3 linked regions of the Homo sapiens genome follow. The protein of the gene in region 1 interacts with the protein of each later gene in a biochemical or structural test. Each region holds a gene or a part of one and is shown in the gene's direction. Other genes may lie near its edges. The genes, in order: LATS1, LOXL2 and ZYX.

The links.
Region 2: of the proteins of LATS1 (region 1) and LOXL2, one has a biochemical effect on the other in vitro, tested with the Homo sapiens proteins (one study listed by BioGRID).
Region 3: the proteins of LATS1 (region 1) and ZYX form a complex in vitro, tested with the Homo sapiens proteins (one study listed by BioGRID).

What each region holds. Positions count from the first base shown.
Region 1 is NC_000006.12:149,707,981-149,711,628, reverse strand, and holds part of LATS1 (serine/threonine-protein kinase LATS1), read left to right. Parts: intron 1-3,648. UniProt on the Homo sapiens protein: Negative regulator of YAP1 in the Hippo signaling pathway that plays a pivotal role in organ size control and tumor suppression by restricting proliferation and promoting apoptosis.
Region 2 is NC_000008.11:23,366,107-23,369,754, reverse strand, and holds part of LOXL2 (lysyl oxidase homolog 2 precursor), read left to right. Parts: intron 1-1,320; 5' UTR 1,321-1,403; coding exon 1,404-1,758; intron 1,759-3,629; exon of another isoform or gene 3,630-3,648. UniProt on the Homo sapiens protein: Mediates the post-translational oxidative deamination of lysine residues on target proteins leading to the formation of deaminated lysine (allysine).
Region 3 is NC_000007.14:143,387,720-143,391,367, forward strand, and holds the end of ZYX (zyxin), read left to right. Parts: intron 1-499; coding exon 500-620; intron 621-769; coding exon 770-939; intron 940-1,047; coding exon 1,048-1,226; intron 1,227-2,137; coding exon 2,138-2,258; intron 2,259-2,858; coding exon 2,859-2,963; 3' UTR 2,964-3,392; downstream 3,393-3,648. UniProt on the Homo sapiens protein: Adhesion plaque protein. Binds alpha-actinin and the CRP protein. Important for targeting TES and ENA/VASP family members to focal adhesions and for the formation of actin-rich structures.

The sequences.
Region 1 (3,648 bases):
GGGTTTTAAATTTTGAATAGACAAGAAGATTTTTTTAGTATGAACTTGAGATGATTTAAGAAAAAAAAATTTCATTTTGTTTTTTGAGATGGAGTCTCACCCTGTCACCCAGGCTAGAGTGCAGTGGCACAATCTCCGCTCACTGCAACCTCCGCCTCCCAGGTTCAAGCAATTCTTCTGCCTCAGCCTCCTGAGTAGCTGGGACTACAGGCACATGCCACCACGCCCAGCTAATTTTTGTATTTTTTAGTAGAGATGAGGTTTCACCTTATTGGCCAGGCTGGTCTCAAACTCCTGACCTCGTGATCCGCCTGTCTCGGCCTCCCAAAGTGCTGGAATTACAGGTGTGAGGCACCGTGCCCGGCCAAAAGATATTTTTTTTTTTTTTAACAAAACAGTTTCTTTAAAGTTAGTAAGCCTCTTCCGATCTGTTTGGTTTCCTTCAGTTCTATGTGTCAGTAACCACAGTCGAAGTTCACATGTATTGGTAAACTCATCCAAAGATTTAAGAGCGTCTATTCCTCCTCCTCTCATTTGGTTGTTTGAGGCTATTAGGTTTGATGGGAAGGCTACGTCTTTAATATGGTCTTAACCACAGAAGCACTAGTTAGCTAAGGGGTTTCAGTGGGCATCTGTGCTCAGTCTTTTAATCCTGCCTCTAGGGGTCTAGGTACAAGCTGCTTTTCCAATCCTTCAAGGCTTTAAATTTCTGAACTTTTTCTATTCTCTTCTGTTTTTGCTTTCAAATCTACTACTTCCTTCTTGAACTCATCATTTACTTATAATACTTGCCAAATATCTAATAGCAGCCAATACTCACTTCCAAAATCCTCTTTACCAAACTCCTATAACACTACAAGGTCAGTAGCCTCTTTGTATGTTCACTGACCTTGTAGTTGTATGAAAAGTTATTATAGGCAACAGCGTTACCAGATATTTTGCCACTATAAAACATGATCCTCCATCTTTCCAGCCTCCGGTATCTGTTTCCTCTCAGCCCTTAATCTGACCACTAAGGCAGTATCACTAAGGCAGGACTGCATAGGTTTTTATTGTAGCAGCACCTCACTTCCAGGTACCAGTTTTCTGTATTAGGATAATGAAACACTGAATATACAGATGGACAATGGCCAGATCATATATAAAACTAGAACTCTGACCCATGACCTATGTAGCAATAGGCCCAGTCAGGACTTGGTCAGTAATTACCAGCTTCCCTAATTTTTGTGCCTTCTTCCAATTCGGGACGACTCAGAGAAAGCCAAATATGCTTCCCAAATCAACCACATAGGATACCCCGCTTCCAGTGTCGACGAAGAGTCAAACTCTGTAAAATATTTTAAGAGATCTATTCTAAGCCAAATATGAATGGCTATTGCCCCATGACACAGCCCTCAGGAGCTCCTGAGAACATGTGCCCAAGGTGATCAGACTACAGCTTGGTTTTATACATTTTAGGGAGACATAAGACATCAATCAGTATATGTAAGATGTACATTGGTTAGGTCCAGAAAGGAAGACACCTTGAAGCAGATGGCTTCCAGGTCATAGGTAGATTCACAGATTTTCTGATTGGCAGTTGGTCGAAAGAGTTGTTACTGTCTAAAGACCTAGAATCAATAGAAGGGAGTATCTAGGTTAAGATAAGGGGTTGTGGGCAGGCACAGTGGCTCACGCCTGTAATCCCAACACCTTGGGAGGCCGAGGCAGGTGGATCACGAGGTCAGGAGTTCAAGACCAGCTTGGCCAACATAGTGAAACCCCATCTCTACTAAAAATACAAAAATTAGCGAGGCATGGTAGCGCACGCCTGTAATCCCAGCTACTCAGGAGGCTGAGGCAGGAGAATCACTTGAAACCGGGAGGCGGAGATTGTGGTGAGCCAAGATCAAGCCACTGCATTCCAACCTGGGCAACAGAGTGAGACTCCATCTAAAAAAAAAAAAAAAAAAAAAAAAAAGATAAGGGGTTGTGGAGACCAGGGTTCCCATTATGCAGATAGAATCAATAGGAAGGAATGTCTGAGCCAAGGTAAGGGGTTGTGGAGACCAAAGTTCCCATTATGTAAAGGAAGCCTCCAGGTGGCAGGCTTCAGAGATAATACATTGTAAATGTTTCTTATCAGGGTTGATTCTCTCCTGGATCAGGCAAAAGGCCTGAGAAAGGAAGGGAATTAACTTCAGAATGTAGATTTTCCGCACAAGAGACAGCTTTGCAGGACTGTTTGAAGATATGGCAAAGAAACATAATTTGGGGTCAAATACTTGGATTTCTTTCAGGGCCTGCCATCTGTCATGTGATACTATGCTAGAGTCAGGCTGGAATTGGGTATCTTATTGCTACAGAGAGTCTGTTTTGTCAGTCTTAAGATTTGTTTTAATGTTAGTGCTGGTCAGCTGTGCCTGAATTCCAACAGGGAGGAGGGAATAATGAGGTATGGCCAAACTCCGCTTCCCATCATGGCTGGAACTAGTTTTTCAGGTTAACTTTCAAATGCTCTTGGCTGGGAGGAGGGGTTCATTCAGATGGTTGAAGGACTTAGAATTTTATTTTTGGTTTACATCAGTTAGCCCACCTCCAGTTTCCCATGCCAACAACCTACAATCAGAGCATACCTGATGTCTTCCCCCTTTTTTTAGTATAAAGATTTCCCACTCCCCTGCTTGCCTTTGAATCTTTGCCAAGCACAAGTTGACAGTGGCTGACTCCCTACCTATATAGTAAGATCTAATTAAATAGCCTTTGTTTGTTTCCATTTGGGCAGTCTTTGTCTATTTTCACAATGTTATTAGGCTGTTTTGTGGTAACAAATCCCCAAATATCAATGGCTTAACACAACAGAAATGTTTCTCTTGCTCAGAGTTCAGTGGGAGTCAGTAGGGTTCTCCATCCAGTGGCTTAGGGATCCACCTTCCTTCCATATTGTCAAGCCACCATCTCAGAATGTAACCTACATTGTCATTAAAGCAGGAAAACCGAAGCAAAGTGACTTTTAACTGCCTCAGTCCAGAATTGAGATATGTTACATCTGCTCATCCAGCTTTGGCCAAATCTGGGAAATGGAGTCGAGTACTGTATGTGAATATAGTCTCTGCCAGAATATATTTACCAAAAGCAATTGGCTAAAGATATACACAATTCCTCCATTTCAGCGTTTTTGAGATCAGAAGATTTAGATTATCTTACAATTGAAATTTTTTTTTTTTTTTTTTTTGAGATCCAGTCTCGCTCTGTCGCCCAGGCTGGAGTGCAGTGGTGCAGTCTCGGCTCACTGCAACCTCTGCCTCTGTGGTTCAAGCGATTCTCCTGCCTCAGCCTTCCGAGTAGCTGGGACTACAGGTGCCTGCCACCACGCTCGGCTAATTTTTGTGTTTTTAGTAGAGACGGGGTTTCACCATATTGACCAGGGTGGTCTTGTACAATTAAAATTGAAATGAATATTCAAATGTAATGCTTCTGTTATTTCCCCTGATAAATGAAGTGACATTGTTTCATGGAAATAATAGTTTCTTTAAAATGAATCCTGTGTATTTTAATTGCATGTATTTAAATAAGAATTTGTAGCAGAACCATTCTAGGATCCAGTCATTTCCTTTCCTTTTTTTTTCTTTTTTAACTCTCTATTTTGGAAAACTTCAAGAATACACA
Region 2 (3,648 bases), on another chromosome or scaffold:
TGTTTGTTAGTCACAGGATGAGCATGGCTGGCTCTCCGGTGACATCAGAAAGCTTTCCAAAATCCTCAGTTCTGACTGTCCCCCAGGCTCTAACATCTCCACCCCAGCATCCTCTTCGGGGCACTGAGCACTGCTGGTCACCCAACAGACATGGAACTGCCTCACTCCAAGGCAGATCATCCCTCCATGGGCAGCTCTGGACAGCTCTGACTACAGGAAAGTTAGCCAGTCCTTCCTCAAAGGTAGTGTGCCATGACCAGAAGAATATGATTAGCCTACTCCTCTGCATAGGGTTAAAATAAAATACCTTATGCCCCCACCTAAGCTTCCACCTGCTCATCCTGGTTTGGGGCCCTGCATGTTTCTCCACAAGACACACGTGTGCTCCTTTTAAAATCGTCTCCTCTTTTCTCTGAATTACGGGAGGACCAAGATACACGAGGTCTCTTGCTACATGATTTCACTCGGGAATTCTTAGAGGTAGGCTCCACCAGATACGATGACCAGGACCTTGAGGATTTTAAAACTCATTTAGCATTGCAGCCCTCAAAGCTGACGGGAAAATTATAATTCATCTAGCAAATGTTCCTGTAGTGTTTTGGGGTGCCATTCATTTAATGGAGGGTGGGTGTGTTGAACATCCTGCCCTCACCCCTTCAGACCCGCTCCTTCTCCACCGGCCCCCATGTTCCAGGAGGCTGTCCCACACGGGCTCCCTCAATGGGCTCAGCTCCCTTGCCAGTGGCTTCGAGTTGAAGGGGGCTGGGTTTGCCTAATAGGAGGCACCAGAATGATTCAAAGACGGGAGGAAAGGGAGTCAGGTATTTATTCTCCCTCCCATGTCCCCGCCGTTGCCATGGGTTGGCTCTGAGACCCTCCAGTGAGGGCCACAGCTCCTAAGAGACAGCTCCCTCTGCCAGTCTCCAGTTCTCACCCCCGCAGGCTCCCTTCAAGCCTAGGGTGGTCACAGCCCCCTCTGAGTCGCCAGCCCTAGGGTGTGACACCGGCCTTTGTTAGTTCTGCAGAACTCTGCCGGCATGTCCGTAGTCTTAAAAAACTCTCCTTAAATTAAGTTGGAGTGTGTTCTGTTCCCTGCCAGGAACTCTACTGGAAAAAGCATTCTAGAGAGATGACAAGGCAGTAGGTAAAGGAGGTGGGACCTCCCAGCCCTGCATGGTGGAAATGTAGGAGTGGGGCTGGATTGGCGTCGAGAATGGACGAGCTTTCCATATTAAGCCAAGGGGTATGAAATCGCTGGTTCTCTATGTAGGTCTCCGTAGCCCCACGTTCCCATCCTAACGCATCTCTCCTCTCTTCCAGAAAGCTCCTGCTGCTTCTGTACCCCGCCTGTCCCTCCCAGCTGCGCAGGGCCCCTTCGTGGGATCATCAGCCCGAAGACAGGGATGGAGAGGCCTCTGTGCTCCCACCTCTGCAGCTGCCTGGCTATGCTGGCCCTCCTGTCCCCCCTGAGCCTGGCACAGTATGACAGCTGGCCCCATTACCCCGAGTACTTCCAGCAACCGGCTCCTGAGTATCACCAGCCCCAGGCCCCCGCCAACGTGGCCAAGATTCAGCTGCGCCTGGCTGGGCAGAAGAGGAAGCACAGCGAGGGCCGGGTGGAGGTGTACTATGATGGCCAGTGGGGCACCGTGTGCGATGACGACTTCTCCATCCACGCTGCCCACGTCGTCTGCCGGGAGCTGGGCTACGTGGAGGCCAAGTCCTGGACTGCCAGCTCCTCCTACGGCAAGGGAGAAGGTAAACGCTCTGTGCTTTGGATCTGAGTGCTGTCACCTGGCAAGGCCCGGAGTGGCCTTCCCTGAGGTCAGCCTGGGAGAGGAGGCTGCACGCACTGCGAAGTGTAAATTCTTGGTGATGCCCATCCAGGGACTGGCATCCTTCTGTGCCCACTCAGGCTGCACCCTGCAGGAAGGCGGGGTCGGGGGGCTTGAGGAGGGGCACAGTAAGTGACCAACCATACTGATTTGCCCAAGACTTTCCTGGCTTTAGCACAGAAAGTCTCACATCCTGGGAAAACCTCAGGAAAACCAGGACAGTTGGTGACCCCAGGTAGGGGGTGAAATCGGCCTGTGCTCCTCTCTCCGCCCCATATGCCCTGCCTGGGGGCTGCGTCAGCCCAGAGGAAGTTGCGCTTTACTCCAAATCGTTCCCTGTTAGGAAAGCCTCTTGCTCTTCCTCACAATGGCTCCCACATGCTGGAGCTCCCTGACGCCCCCCACCTTCCTGGCATGTGGAGTTCATCGTTTTCACACTAACCTGCTATTGTGGGCTTGGTCACAATAGGCACACAGATGCTTTGGGTTTTTCACCGTTGGTTAGCCTATTCTTTCCTCCCTTGTGAGGTTCAAATTTATTAGTTTATTTTTAAAAATTGTTTTAAGAGCTGGCCAGGCGCAGTGGCTCATACCTGTAATCCCAGCACTTTGGGAGACGGAGGCGGGATGATCACTTGAGGTCAGGAGTTCGAGACCAGCCTGGCCAACATGGGGAAACCCCATCTCTACTAAAAATACAAAAATTAGCCGGGCATGGTGGCGAGTGTCTGTAGTCCCAGCTACTCAGGAGGCTAAGGCACAAAAATCGCTTGAACCCGGGAGGCGGAGGCTGCAGTGAGCCGTGATCGCGCCACTGCACTCCAGCCTGGGTGACAGAGCGAGACTCCATCTCAAAAAAACAAAAAACAAAACAAAAACCCAAAAAATTGCTTTAACAGCTTTGAGGCAGGACAAAGTTTGAAGCCCTGAACCTAGAGCTCAGTCTGTACTGACCTCTGACACCACACTTTGTAGGAAGACGCATGTCCTCTCCAGCCTCATTTTCCCCATCTGGAAGTTGGGCTAAGAACCCCTGAAACCCTGACAGTGTATGTTCCCAAATAGGAAAGAGATAAGGGTGGAGGGAATTGTTTCTTTTTAAACATTTTTCCAGGAGCTAAGAGTTTCCTATCTCTGGGTCAGCCAGGCAAAGGAAGCTCCCACACCCTCCCGCCCGGCTGAGCTGCAGCCCAGACCTCAGCACAAGTCTGGCTACTGGACTAAAGCAGAGCTGCCTATACTCCTGTCCTGGACTAAAGGGCTAATGCCATGCTGACTGCGTAAGAATCGCCCAAGGGAGCTTAAAAGTACAGAATAGCGCAGACCTCAACCCACCATAATCTAGTTTAAAAGGTCTGGGCTGGAGCCCAGGACTCTGTCTCTTTTGGAAGTCTGCAAAGTGACAGGTTTGGGAGTCATTGAAATTGATAACTGTTATCCTCCCTTCCAACTTTTCTGTTATTCTAGAAATTATAGGAGAAAGGAAGTCCCATCTCATACACATCTCACCTCCATGCAATTGAAAATTTCCTTTTGGGGTAACTGGATCAGGAGACAGCACAGAGTCAAATGTTCTCTGCAGCTTGCTCTGGGCGATGAGAGCCACAGCAGTGAAGTTAGCAAATGCTGGGCTTTAGAACCCACTTCCTGTCTTCTTTAAACAAACGTCCGATACTTCCACATCTCTGTTTATCCGGCTGGCTGAGCGATCCAGGGGTAACCTCAGATTCATGTTTTCCATTCCAGGCTTTCCAACGCTCATTATTTTATAACAAATGCTTTCCAGTGACTGGGTATTTTTCCAGTGACAACT
Region 3 (3,648 bases), on another chromosome or scaffold:
TAACCTGCAATTCCTGCCTGTGTTGTATCCTCACGCTGACAGGGGCTGCTCAGCAGCAGGCAGGCCGGGTAGGTGTGTGTGCGCGTGTGTGCACGCCATTGCGTGCCCCTGTCCCATGGGGGCGATGTCCGAGCATGCTCTGTGGAGTTGATGCGTGGCCCTGGAGTGTCCGGTGCTTCAGTGACCCGAGCTGCTGTGTGCGTGGCCTCCGTCCGCCCAGTCATTCTGGCCTGTCTGTGACTGCTCAGGGGGTTTGGGCAGAGTGGGTGGAAATGTCTTGCTGTACGAGATCCAGGCTTAGGTCCCTTCCCCTGTTATTTGTGTGGTGCTGGGGATGGCGGGGGTAGGGGGACGAGGGAGAAGCTTTAAGGGTCAAGCCTGAGCATCTGGGACACGAGCTGGGAGCTAAGCCTCATCGGAAGAAGCCGGGTAGGCTGGCCTGGGAAGGTTCTTGGAGGCAGCAGCCCTCTAGAGTGTGAGGAAAATGTTGGGATTGCAGGTGCGCTCCCCTGGGGCCCCAGGGCCCCTGACTCTGAAGGAGGTGGAGGAGCTGGAGCAGCTGACCCAGCAGCTAATGCAGGACATGGAGCATCCTCAGAGGCAGAATGTGGCTGTCAACGGTGAGCCCACCCCACCGGGACACCCCCACCCTGCCCCCACATCACGGTGGGGGCCAGGGCTGTGGCTCCACTCCCTATCTGAGCTGGCTGATCCCTCGCAGCTCTACATACTTCCTTCTATTTACTGCTGTCTTCTCTGGCCTTCCCAGAACTCTGCGGCCGATGCCATCAACCCCTGGCCCGGGCGCAGCCAGCCGTCCGCGCTCTAGGGCAGCTGTTCCACATCGCCTGCTTCACCTGCCACCAGTGTGCGCAGCAGCTCCAGGGCCAGCAGTTCTACAGTCTGGAGGGGGCGCCGTACTGCGAGGGCTGTTACACTGTGAGTCGGGCTGTGCTGGGCTGTGCTGGGCTGTGCTGGGCAGTCGGGCCCTGGAAGCTTGCTGTGGGGTGCCGGTTCCCTGCCAACCTCCTCCTGCTGCCTCCTCAGGACACCCTGGAGAAGTGTAACACCTGCGGGGAGCCCATCACTGACCGCATGCTGAGGGCCACGGGCAAGGCCTATCACCCGCACTGCTTCACCTGTGTGGTCTGCGCCCGCCCCCTGGAGGGCACCTCCTTCATCGTGGACCAGGCCAACCGGCCCCACTGTGTCCCCGACTACCACAAGTGAGGACCTGCCACCTGCCTTCTGGGTTCCCGGCGTGCTTGGTCTGGTAGCCCGGCTGCTTGCTACCCTAGCCTCAGGACAGCCCCAAACCCCTGGTGGTGTTTTCTGGTCCCATGTCCTGTCTGTAAACAGCAGGGACCAAGTCATCGGGATGTAGCTGTCCAGGGGCCTTAGGCCTGGGCATCGAGTCCTGCTGCTGTCTGGTCCCTCCCTCGCCCTTGATCACTGAAGCTTATTGTGGGTGTATGTCAGCATTTCGTGAAGTGTGCTGGAGTGACTTCATCTCACACACAGGCTGGGTTCTAAAAGTTCTTTTGGAGATCAGCTGTTTGGATTTCTGGTTTCTCCCCAGAAATAGTGTTTAGAAGGTGGCTACTTTTTCAGGCTGACCCGCAGAACCTCAGTGCAGCTGTGGGAACAGTGCAGAATCTGACCCCCACCTCTGACAGAGTGTTTGGGTAAACACTTTCAGGATTCCATCTGGGGTGGCCACAACTTCACATCCCTCCACAGTGCCAGACAGTCAGGGCAGAGGCAACGTGCATGGGGGTGGGAGGATTGGGGGAAGGTGAGGGTCAGGGACCCAGGATGGGATGGGAGGGGTACCTCAGGGCTGGCTTTCTGCAGGAGCTGCAGTGTGAATGGGACAGTAAGGGTCGAGTGGGAGAGAACACCGTGGCAGGTGTGTGGGAGGCTCCCTTGCTTTGGGAGAGTGACTGGTGAGGCAGGAAATTCCCTTTGATGAGGGCCAGTCATGGTGTCTCACTCTTAGGCCCTTCTGGTGAGCTTCCTTCACCTGGAGATGCAGGGCAGAGAAGTCTGCTTCCTTGCTGCCCAACCTGGCTTATGCGTGCGCACACCGGGGATGAAAGCCCTGGCTAACTCGGCTGGCCCTTTCTGCCCCTTCCAGGCAGTACGCCCCGAGGTGCTCCGTCTGCTCTGAGCCCATCATGCCTGAGCCTGGCCGAGATGAGACTGTGCGAGTGGTCGCCCTGGACAAGAACTTCCACATGAAGTGTTACAAGTGTGAGGTCAGCCATCCCTCTGGACTCCTTGGGCAGGTTCTGACCAGGAGGTGGCGGGAGATGCTGCTTACTAACTGGGAGGTGGAAAGCACCAGCATTCAGGAAACAGGGCTGTGATTTTGAGGGTGGCTCATGGTGGCACCCCATCTGTCCTGCCAGAATGCTTCCTGCCACTGCAGGAAATGGGGCTGTGGGGCTTCTGAGGTCACTTTGAGTCATGGATAAGCCAAGAAATGGGACAAGCCAATAGGAGAGAAGAAGGGCATGGTGTTTTACCGTGGTAGGGGATGGGGAAACAGGAGCTGAGAGAAGAGGTCTTCGAATGGAGGTGAGCCAACCTCTATTTTATTAGGGTGGTGGTGGGCAGGGGAGCAAGCACCTTGGGAGCAGCTCTACCCACTGCTTGCCCTCTTGCAGGAAGGTCCTAGTGGGTGACTGGAAGTAGGATAGGGATGGGGAGTTGGGTGTGGCTGGAAAAAGCGATGACACCAGCTCTGAGCCATGAAGCATCTTTCTAATTCCAAGATGGAGCTGGATGGGGTGGGGTAGGGTGGAGCAGAGCAGGGGCCTTCCGGTCCAGTGCCCCTCACCCTTCCTTCTTCCCAGGACTGCGGGAAGCCCCTGTCGATTGAGGCAGATGACAATGGCTGCTTCCCCCTGGACGGTCACGTGCTCTGTCGGAAGTGCCACACTGCTAGAGCCCAGACCTGAGTGAGGACAGGCCCTCTTCAGACCGCAGTCCATGCCCCATTGTGGACCACCCACACTGAGACCACCTGCCCCCACCTCAGTTATTGTTTTGATGTCTAGCCCCTCCCATTTCCAACCCCTCCCTAGCATCCCAGGTGCCCTGACCCAGGACCCAACATGGTCTAGGGATGCAGGATCCCCGCCCTGGGGTCTGGTCCTCGCCCATCCTGCAGGGATTGCCCACCGTCTTCCAGACACCCCACCTGAGGGGGGCACCAGGTTTAGTGCTGCTGCTTTCACTGCTGCACCCGCGCCCTCGGCCGGCCCCCCGAGCAGCCTTTGTACTCTGCTTGCGGAGGGCTGGGAGACCCTCCAGGACATTCCCACCCTCCCCCATGCTGCCAAGTTGTAGCTATAGCTACAAATAAAAAAAAACCTTGTTTTCCAGAATTCTCAGTAGTCAGCTCTTTTGTAGTGCCTGCAGCCCTCATGGGTGGGATGGAGGCAGAAAATCAGTTCCTGTTTATTTACAAAAATATATATATGTGTATGTATGTATATATATTAACCCCTCAGCTCCCTCCCATGATCATCCTTTTACTTCTACCCCCACCTCCCTTTTAAAACAAAGAGGTTTTCTGGGGTGCAGAGCAGGGTTCTCCTGAAAGTGGGCAGAAGCAGCACCGATAGCCTAGTCTGGCAGGTT